Regions from separate parts of the Homo sapiens genome. Here region 2 is linked to region 1. The links come from fine-mapping of genetic effects on gene expression. Tissue or cell type: whole blood. Region 1 holds a variant in brackets; the other region holds the start of a gene. All regions are shown on one strand. Distances are between the middles of the regions.

Evidence for each region. PIP is the estimated chance that this variant, and not a neighbour inherited with it, causes the effect.
Region 2: DSTYK starts here. The variant in region 1 is fine-mapped to the expression of DSTYK in whole blood (INTERVAL, PIP 0.91).

What each region holds. Positions count from the first base shown.
Region 1 is chr1:205,066,938-205,072,139 of GRCh38, reverse strand. CNTN2 (contactin 2) reads right to left here. Exons shown (of 23, transcript NM_005076.5): 16 at 4,890-5,039; 17 at 2,579-2,649; 18 at 2,079-2,313; 19 at 1,602-1,714; 20 at 7-193. Among named protein-coding and RNA genes, the nearest start is that of TMEM81, 15 kb to the left of the region's middle. The variant G/A (reference allele first, on the strand shown) is at 2,537.
Region 2 is chr1:205,209,059-205,214,184 of GRCh38, reverse strand. DSTYK (dual serine/threonine and tyrosine protein kinase) reads left to right here and starts at 2,483. Exons shown (of 13, transcript NM_015375.3): 1 at 2,483-2,914. The coding sequence starts at 2,650. RefSeq lists a cis regulatory region at 25, an enhancer at 1-97 and silencers at 2,554-2,683, 3,104-3,153.

The DNA of each region.
Region 1 (5,202 bases):
ACTCACGGGGCTTCATGGTCGTGGCGTTGGCAGAAGGGCTGGCAGGCCCAGTGCCAGCCCGGTTGTAGGCCCTCACGGTCACATGGTACTTGGTGTTGGGATGCAGGCCGCTGACTCGGGCACTGGTGTCCAGCCCTGCTGTCCTCACTCGGTCCGCAGCTGCTTCTTTGTCCCCAGCTTTCCAGTAGCGGATCTGAAGGAGGCGGGGGTACCCAAGGGGTAGTAGTCAAGCCCAGGATCTCAGGGCTGCCCCGGCCCCCACATTCTGTTCCTCTCTTGCTCATCCTGGTCCCTGTGACCCAGTCTTAGGCCTCAGAACCTGGAGACTAGATCATGAGCACCCAGACAGCAGGGCCATGTGGGTGTGAGTCCCTGCTGTCTGTTGGTGCGTAGTTCAAGGAAGGTGCTCAAGACATGGGTCAGGGAGGGAGCTGGTGGCACAGGCTCAACCTAGCAATGGCCTGCTGGAACCCATTTCATTTCATTAACTTGGGGGGCTACCGTGGGCATTCTGCTAAGGGACAGAAAATGCTTATTTGTATTGCAAAGTAGTCCCCTGGCCCTAAGCAAGCTTCTGAAGGTTGCCTAATAAATGCAAACCCATTTTCATGGTAATCATAGCATGAAGACCTGCTAAATATGCTTTCAAAGGCAGAGGCAAGGGCAGAGTTTGGAATTATCTCCACACTGTGGCTTGCCTAAGCTATTGTACTCAAATCTAGAGTACTCTACTAGAATGAACTTGTGCTATCACTAGTAGGCCCAGCTTGATGGTTTCTTCTTGCTTTTCCTTCTTTCTCTCCCTCTTGCTTCCCATCACTTGCCATCTGCTCCACAGGTACCCCTTTGTGGAGTTCTCAGTGGGCCCAGGACTCAGGCCAGACTGCTGGGCCCCAGATTCCCCCGGGACAGGATGATCAACTGTCCATAGAGCGGCTCAGGCTGTTTTCTGTGCAGCCCTGGACAGGCCAGCCTGAATGGGCTCTGGGATGAAAGGGGCAGGCCATGCCCCTTCCCAGAACCTGTTCCTTCTACCCTCTCAGCTTCCAATGCTGGCTCTAGCCAAGCATTTACTTTAAGGCTGCCTCCAGGGTCTGTCTTCCCCAATGGGCATAAGCCATGGGGTCTTTTTTTTTTTTTTTTTGAGATGGAGTCTCGCTTTGTCACCCAGGCTGGAGTGCAGTGGCGCAATCTCAGCTCACTGCAACCTCTGCCTCCTGAACGCAAGCGATTCTCCTGCCTCAGCCTCCTGAGTAGCTGGGATTACAGGCATGGGCCACCATGCCCAGCTAATTTTTGTATTTTTAGTAGAGGCGGGGCTTCACCATGTTGGCCAGGCTGGTCTCAAACTCCTGATCTCAGGAGATCTACCGCCTCAGCCTCCCAAAGTGATGGGATTACAGGCATGAGCCACCGCGCCTGGCCTGCCATGGGGTCTTAGTGAAATTTGCATTCACAGTGCTACACAGACTGGATGCTCAGTTTGCCATGTCAGCGAACCAGGGACGCCAGGAGGAATGATTAGTGGTCTGTGAGTTGTTCCCACCTGGCTTTGAAGCCCCAGCACCCCTTCCTCTCCCAAGTCCCAGGTTGGTGCTCACCTCATACCCCAGGAGGATACCATTCATGTCCTGCTGCACGGGTTCCCAGGTCACGTTCATCTCTGAGGATGAGACCCCTTTGGCCCACACCTTGGTAGGGGCCACCCTGGGCTCTGGGGACCAATACAGAATGGGTTTGGATTCCCAGGGCCCCCCTGTGTCCTGCAGAGCAGCCCCCAACCAGGATTGCCTTTGCTTAAGATTTTGGAGGAAAGCCTTCAGGATGAAGGCCGAGTGGGAGCCCCCCAAGCAATGCTCCAGGGCCCACTTCTATTCCCAGAGAGCCTCCCTTTTCCTAACCCCGAAGGGAGACAAGGTAGCAAGAGCTGGAAGTGAGGCCAATGATGTGGAACCCAGGTGTCCTCTCAACCTCCTCCTATGGAACTGAGCTGGGAGATGAGTAGCGTTCCCCCACCCCACATCCCTGTGGACAAGTGGCTGGGGTAGGGACGAGCAGGGGGCCCAGGGGCAGCCCACCTTCCTCAGCTGAGTACACGAGTGCAGTGAGGCTCTCGGGCCCATCCCCGCGGCGGTTGTAGCTGCGGATCTTGACCTCAAAGGGCGTGTAGGGCCGGACGCTCTCGTTGCTGTAGACAAAGTACTGGGCATCGGCGCCAGGCACCCGGGCGGTCTGCCAGTGAGTGCTGCCCTGCCTGCGGAAGGACAGCAGGTAGCCGAAGCCGTCTCCGTTCTGGTACTCCCGTGACATGGGCTGAGGGGCAAGAGCATGGCATGGGCGAGGGTCCGCGGCATGTGTCCCTGCCCGTTCCCTGGCCCCACCCAACCTTTGCCAAGAGTAGCGGCCCTGGACGCCTACGCCTGCAGCGTGGATTCGCGTAAGGGGCAGCGGGTGCGTGGAAGGGGGACAGGAAGTTATCCGCGTTTGAGTCAGAGCTGTGCAGTGGTCCTTTCTGCAGCTGCTCAAGCGGGAGAGG[G/A]GTCAGGGAGGAGGAGGAGGACATCTGACCCTTGCAGCTTACCGTCCAGTTGACGATGAGCTCTCCGGGGGCTCCACCTCCTCCGCTGAGTCCTGAGGGTGCCACCGAGGGGGCTGTCAAGGGCCAAGGGACACCGATATGGCTTGTTAATGAGCAAGGAAAAAATGAAAGCCCTGAGCCTGTGCCTGTAGAGCACCGTAAGATGGGAACCCCTTCAACTGGGCCCTGGGTTTGCCCCCCAGTGGTCCCTCTGAACATAGGCTTTGGAGTCAGGCAGTCCTGAAATCAAATCCCACCTCTGCCATTTACTAGCTGTGCTTCCCTGGGCAAGTCACTTAACCTTTCTGAGCCTCTGATTCTCTTCTCCATGAAGATAATCATGTTTCTCTCAGAGGCCATAATGAGAATGAAATTAGACAAGACGGTGGTTAGTATAGAGCAGATGATGCACACATGATCATTGTCCTCCTTACTCCATCAACTTAAACTAAATCACAGAGACCAACTCTCACTCGCTTTAAAATAAGGGGAATAAATAACCCAGAACTGCAGTTAATGCAAACAAACAAACAAACAAACAAACAAACAAACAAACAAAACAAACTACTTTTGGGCTCCAGGGTGATATATTATCTATTTTTCTTTTTGTTGCAGATTTAATCTCCTAATTGTCTCTAGTATTAAACAAGGCTGATATTAAAACAGGAATTTATTTCATCAGCTCCTGCAGCTTGGCAGAAAGTAACTTGGCTGGGGGTCAAAATATTTCCGTAGAGAATCCAGCAGCTGGAGATTTTTCACTTGCTTCTGATGACAATAGTTTAGGACCGTGTAATTTGCAAGAGGTACTTAAACACATTGGCCATTTGATCCTGTGAGGTGGGTGTTATTATTGCCCTTTTCAGGGTGGAAAGACTGAGGCCCAGAGCAGTTAATCAACTTGCCTAAGGTCACACAGTTAATACATGGCACAGGTAGAATCTGAACTCAGCCCTTCTCATTTTAAAGCCCATCATGTTTCCTTTGCATCACAGCTGTCTTTGTGCTCCTCAGCTACTGGGATGCTGTAAATAGAATAAAGGAGTCCCCTCATTTCTCCACATTTGACCCTCCAAGAAGTTCAGGATCAATCAAAGAAAGTGCTGCCTCTGGAATTTCTTACTCAGGAGAGGTACCAGCTAAAAATGTTGAGTGATTCTAGAAAAAGGGCCTGGAGAGTCAGTCTGGGGCATGTAGGAGAACATGTTTCAGGCAGACAAGAAGGTGGACCCTCACTACACATCCAGTGCAACAGGTCTGTAGAGGAGGTGAGGCAGGGTCCTTAATCTATGCTCCTGGTCCCAGGATCCCCGGGCTCTCATTCCAGGCCTTCCCCTGCGAATGGCTCGGAGATGGGCAGGAGCCTCTCAGCAGATGCTGACTGGAGCCTGTGCCTCCCCTACTCTCTCCTGGGTTCTTTTCTCCCCCTCCTTCTCCACTCAAGTTCTGACACCCACACGCTTTTTGCTGAGGGTTGTGGGCAGGTTATTCAATTCCATCTGCTCCCAAAGAAACCATCTAAAGGCTTGGAGACACTGGCTGCTTCCCTAGCCCCCTGCACAGAACACACACACATCTTTCACATCAACTGATTTCCTTTTTTTCTTTCTTTTTTTTTTTTTTTTTTTTTTTTTTTTGAGATGGAGTCTCGCTCTGTCGCCCAGGATGGAGTGCAGTGGTACAATCTTGGCTCACTGCAACCTCCACCTCCCGGGTTCAAGCGATTCTCCTGCTTCAGCCTCCCGAGTAGCTGGGATTTACAGGTGTGTGTCACCACGCCTGGCTAATTTTTGTATTTTTAGTAGAGACGGGGTTTCACCATGTTGGCCAGGCTGGTCTCAAACTTCTGACCTCAGGTGATCTGCCTGCCTCGGCCTCCCAAAGTGCTGGGATTACAGGCTTGAGCCACTGCGCCCAGCCAGCATTAACTGATTTCTGTAGTGCATACTCTTCCAGGAAGACATCTGTCTACCACCCCATGGTCCTGGGTTCAAGTCCAAGCTCTGTCAATGTGACTCTTCCTTTCTCCGAACTTTGGTTTTTCCACTTTTAAAAATTAAACTTAAAAAAATTATAGATGCACATGCAGTTGTAAGGTTGGCCAGTTTTTAAATGAGGAGTTTGGACTAGATGGTTTGTCCATGCAGTGGCCCTGGTCCCAACTTGGTGTTCTGTCCTCCTCTGTTTTGTGAGAGTCTGAACCCTGTGAGCAGGGTTGGAACTCAGCATAATTGCGGCTGGCTTGGCATTCCCTATAAGTGGTGCCAGGGTCTCTGCCCTGATGATAGCTTTTTGGGACACACAGGACTCTCACCTGCTTCCCTGGTCCGGATTTTGCTGGAGGGCCCACTAGGCTCCCCAGTGCCCAGAATGTTGCTGGCTATGACCCGGAACTCATAGTCCATCCAGGGGGTGAGGCCCAGCACCTGTGCAGTCTCGGCATTGCCCTCGATGTTTGCAGGATCTGCAAGGCACCAGGGAGTCCATATTCCAGCATTCGCTTATTCATCTGGGTGCAGAGGGCAGGCACTGGCCTGAATCACCCCTTATCTACCCAGCCCTCACTTCGGTACTTGCCATATACTAAGCACTCAGTACCTTTTTCAGAAATGATTGAAAAACTACTC
Region 2 (5,126 bases), 140 kb before region 1:
GCTGGGACAACAGGCATGCGTCACTACGTCCAGCTAATTTTTGTATTTTTAGTAGAGACGGGATTTCATTATGTTGGCCAGGATGGTCTCGAACTCTTGACCTCATGATCCACCCACCTTGGCCTCCCAAAGTGCTGGGTTTACAGGTGTGAGCCACTGTGCCCAGCCAGGAAATACTTTTCTATACCAACTTAAACCCTCTCTTCTTACCGTTCAAAACTTTATTTTCTCCATTTGTCCTTTGAATTAGATATTTGAAGAAAATATGTATTTTAATTGGTAAGTTATTATGATTTACAAAGGGCTCATTGTCACTTGCATTTTTTAAGATTTTAAATAGCAAAAAATTATTGCCTTTCTCAACAGATCAAAAATAGGTATGAGATATACTTACACATATTCAAAATGATGTACATAGATTAGTTCTTGCAGTATTGTTTTTAATATCAAAAGACTGCAAAAAACCTAAAGGTCCGCCAATAGAAGACTTGTTAAATAAAACATGCCAATCCATGTGGTAGTATGTTACACAGTTAAAAAGAATGAAACAGACCTTTATGTTTTGGTACAGAAGTCTGCAAGGCCATAATCAAATATGTATTACGTATGCTATCATTTGTATTTAAAATACATGCATACACATATATAAATACATATATAGGATCTATTTATACATGATTTATATCTACAACAGTGGTTGCCTCCTGGGAGGGGAACTAGGTGACTGGGAGGTGAACAGAAAAACTAAGAAAGACTTAGTTTTTCCTTATATATCCTTTGCACCATTTGAATTTTATACCACATTCGTGTATTACTTATTTTGAAAATAAATGCAAAGTACTAAGGAATAGTTTTTAAAAGGGTGGGCTTTGTGATATTTACCTGAAATAATGCCCTCTCTGATTACTTCCACCTATCTAAATTTTGCCCCTTCTTCAAGATAGATTCCTTTTCTGGATAACTCCAGCTTGAGTGCTCTTATCTGATCTCCTGTGCTAGAAATTCGTGTGTGTGGCAAATCATTACACATTGCTTTCTTACAGCTCTTCTATTTTAAAAATAGTATCTACTTTGTATTAAAATTCCCATTTTTAATTTTCATTTCTATTTTACTGAACCTTTGGGGATTGCATGGGGAATATAATCTTGCAAAAGAAGAATGGCTGATGGAAAATACGTGACCAAGTAAAAGGCAGAAGGGGGAGTGGGTAAATGGGAAGGAGCATGAGGCTCCCTCCTTGCAGTCAGCCCTCACAGACATTTATCAAATACAGATTCATTTGAATTAGTGACCCCTTTTTATAAAATGCTAATGCCCCTGGAAAGGTAAGGCCTTCACATCTTACAACAATTAATCCAAATATCACGACATCATTTGGCTAAGAACACCTGGGTGTTCTGCGATGAGAGGTCAGGAGAAGTAAAATTTCTGAAGCAGGACTCACAAAAATTTAAAACCAAAAGGGCTTAAAGATCTGCCATTCTAAACCCTTACTTTATAGAAGATGAAACGGGGTCTTGCCCGAGATCACAATGCAAGGTATAGGAAGAGTCCAGATCCAAACTCAAATCTCCTCTTAATTTCAGTCAAGGAACTACATCATGTAGCCTATCAGAGAAGAAGTCTGGCCTAGGTAAAAGACGGTGTCTTTCTATAGCAAGAAAGATACAGATGGGCTCTGTGCCTGGTGAAGAGGGGAGAGATAATTCAGGAAGCACAAAAGAGGTGACGTCAAGTTTTGCCCCCTTTGTAATTGTGTCCAGGAGTCTGTGACTGTGTGTGTCAATGAAAGTCCTCCATATTAGCAGAAACCAAGTTAAGATAATCAGAAATAGTTTGGAAGGCTACAAACCTCAACTTCCCCTTACCCAGTCCGGTCTCCCTACTTCAGGAACCCACTGAAGTTCAGCTTACAGCTCTTGTTGATCCTTTCACACCCTTCCTTTCCAAGTCTGGAGAAGGAAAGTTGGAAAAGGGGAACGCAATGCAAATATAAGAGATTTCCCTATTTCCAGGGTACTTTCAGCCGATTTCCAGGGTACTTTTAGCCGATTCCCCAGTATCTACTGTATCCGAAACACTAGAGAGCCACTTAGGGTAGCCATGGAGATGACTGTCTTCAGTCTTGTTTCCTTCCTTTTCTCTACTATTAACATCTTTCGCTACGATTTCGGTAAGGCCCCCCCACTTCTGCTGGCACTCAGGTCCTGCAGCTCCTCCCTCTCCTCAGGGACGCTCATAGAGGGATTAGGAACACTTTTTAAAATGAAGAGAGCGCGAAAACACAAGAACGAGTGAGGGTTTTCTCCAAAAGGGATCAGTCCCATCCACAGCCTCCCCTTCTCCAGCCTTGAGGTTTTGGCGTTTGGTCCCAGCCCGGACTGCAAGTCCCAGGAGACCCCGCGGCGAGGGTGTCCTCCAGCGATCCTTCCCTCACGCTTCTGGATAGTGGAGAGAAAGGTTCCGATAGCGGCGCACTGCGGTTTGGTTTGTTTGCAACGGCAGTGACGGAGGTTGGGAGCCAGGCTGACTGCAGGCGGGGGCGTCAGGAGGCGGATTCCTCCTCCCTTCGGCACTGGGGGGCGGGGAGGAGGGAGGCCGGGCCTGCGGCCGGGGACCGAGCCGCAAAGACAGAGCGGGCAGAGGCGATGGAGGGCGACGGGGTGCCATGGGGCAGCGAGCCCGTCTCGGGTCCCGGCCCCGGCGGCGGCGGAATGATCCGCGAGCTGTGCCGGGGCTTCGGCCGCTACCGCCGCTACCTGGGACGGCTGCGACAGAACCTGCGCGAGACCCAGAAGTTCTTCCGCGACATCAAGTGCTCCCACAACCACACTTGTCTCTCCTCCCTCACGGGCGGCGGCGGGGCCGAGCGCGGCCCTGCAGGCGATGTCGCCGAAACCGGGCTGCAGGCGGGTAAGGAGGGCAGCCCGGAGGGAGAGAGGGCAGGAGAGGCAAATCGGAGGACGGACCGCACCCCTGCCCTGCAAAACAAGCCCGAGTCTTCTCGGGCAGGCGGAAAGGGGCAGTCGTGTCGTGTGGCCGGGTCCCCGGGCATGGGCCGGCCGGATCTGGGATACCTTGGGAGGGCATCCTTCTGAGGAGGGGAGGAAGGGGCCCGCTGGGGGACCGGGAGCCAGGGGCAACCGAGGGCCGGAGTTCCCGGAGCGGGACCCCGGGGACCGGGGTGTGCGCTGACGGACCTGGGGCGGGCCGGCGTTCGGAGAGGGTAGCAGTTAATCCGAGGAGTGGGGAAAGTTGCTCTGAGTTGGGGGCGGGCGCGTGCGCCGTTGTGGGTCAGAGCCCCAGTTTAGAGATGGAGCAGAGGCGGCAGCGAGTCCCGGGAGTCCGAGGAGGCCATGGGACTGTAGTCGGGTGTGTGGGTTTGATGATGTATGTGAAATGTGTTCACACCAATCATGAGGCAGCTCTGTGAAGAGGGGACATTCTCTAAATAGGGTTGGGGGTCGCCAGAGGAAATCATATCTGATGGGTGCCACGGAATTGCCAGAGATGTTGCTCATGCTTAAGGTGAAGAAGAGAGGGAAGGGATCATTTTGGTCCTGAGCCAATGGAGAACTAGCTACTCTTGTTCTTTCTTGCATGATTCTTTCTAGGATGTGCCAGAGGCCCCCAAACACTTAAAATCGTGCAGTCTTTAATCTTTCCTAACGTCTTGCTTCCTTTTAAACTGCTGTTGGTGGGGAACTGGAGGATTTGTTAACTACTGCGTCTAATTAGGAAATAACTTTAGATTGGAAGGGAGAAGGGACTGACATTCCACGTAGATAGATATCTTGGGGACAAAACAGCAAAGAAGTCTGTGGGTTTAATTTAGTGATTCTCAAACTAAAGTGTGTATTAAACTCACCCCAGGGGCGTATTAAAAATGCCATGTCTCGTGCTCTAGCTCATAAATTCCTATTGAATAGGTGTGTGAAGTGGGTCCTAAGAATCTAATTTAACATGAAAAGACCCTGAAGAGGCCGGGCGCGGTGGCTCACGTCTGTAATCCCAGCACTTTGGGAGGCAGAGGCGGGGCGGATCACTTGAGGTCAGGAATTCGGGACCAGCCTGGCCAACATGGTGAAACCCCGTCTCTACCAAAAATATAAGAAACTAGCCAGGTGTGGTGGTTGAGGCCTGTAATCTCAGCCACTGGGGAGGCTGAGGCAGGAGAATCGCTTGAAACCAGGCGGCGGAGGTTGCAGTGAGCAGAGATTGTGCCACTGCACTCCACCCTGTGCGACGGAGCAAGACTCTGTCTCAATAATAATAATAATAATAATAATAGTAATAATAAAAGACACTGGGGAAGGTGATGCAGGTGGTCCGTTAAAATACTTTCAGAACCATGAATTTAGATGCTCATAGCAAATTTGAACACAAGGCTTAGAACTGGATGAATTGTTCTGACTTTGCGTGTTAGGTCTTATATTCCCAAAGTTTTGCGCTTAATATCCTACATCCGACTGGGAATCCAGAAATGGTGATAAAAATAAGATACTAAGATCATGACAGTATCAGAAAAACTAGTAGTTTCAGAAAAACTAGTCATCCCCCTCCTTTTATGTTACAAGGTAAAATAAGGCTTTTTAAATTCCTATCCAAACCAACTAAATGGAACGGTATCATTTAGGACCCTGTCATGATCTTAGTATCTTATTTTTATCACCATTTCTGGGGATGACTAGTTTTTCTGAAACTAGTCTTTGACATCTTACGTCCAGAAATATACTGTCCTGGAATGGACTTGTAGAGAGAACCAGTATCTGTGAGGCTACCAGAAAACAGCTGATGGGAAGGGCTAATGTTTTCTGAGACGATCCCCAGAATGTGTACTTTCACCCGCACCCATAACAGTGCTTTCCAGAGGTGTCTCCTGCTCGGAAGTTTCTCTCACAGCTTATCTTAAAAAGCCCTTTATTGCTGTTTTTATTTTAAAACAACTATTTATTTTAGACTTGCTTCTAAAACAAAGAGAATTGATTAACCTCAGAGAGATGGAGGTTTTCAAGGCACTTTGGTTGGCTGTTGTTTTTATTCTTTAAAAAACAACTTAAGACATACAAATATACCTTTGCATTTCACTTCATTGGCTTTTCCAGTTGACTGCATCATGAACTGA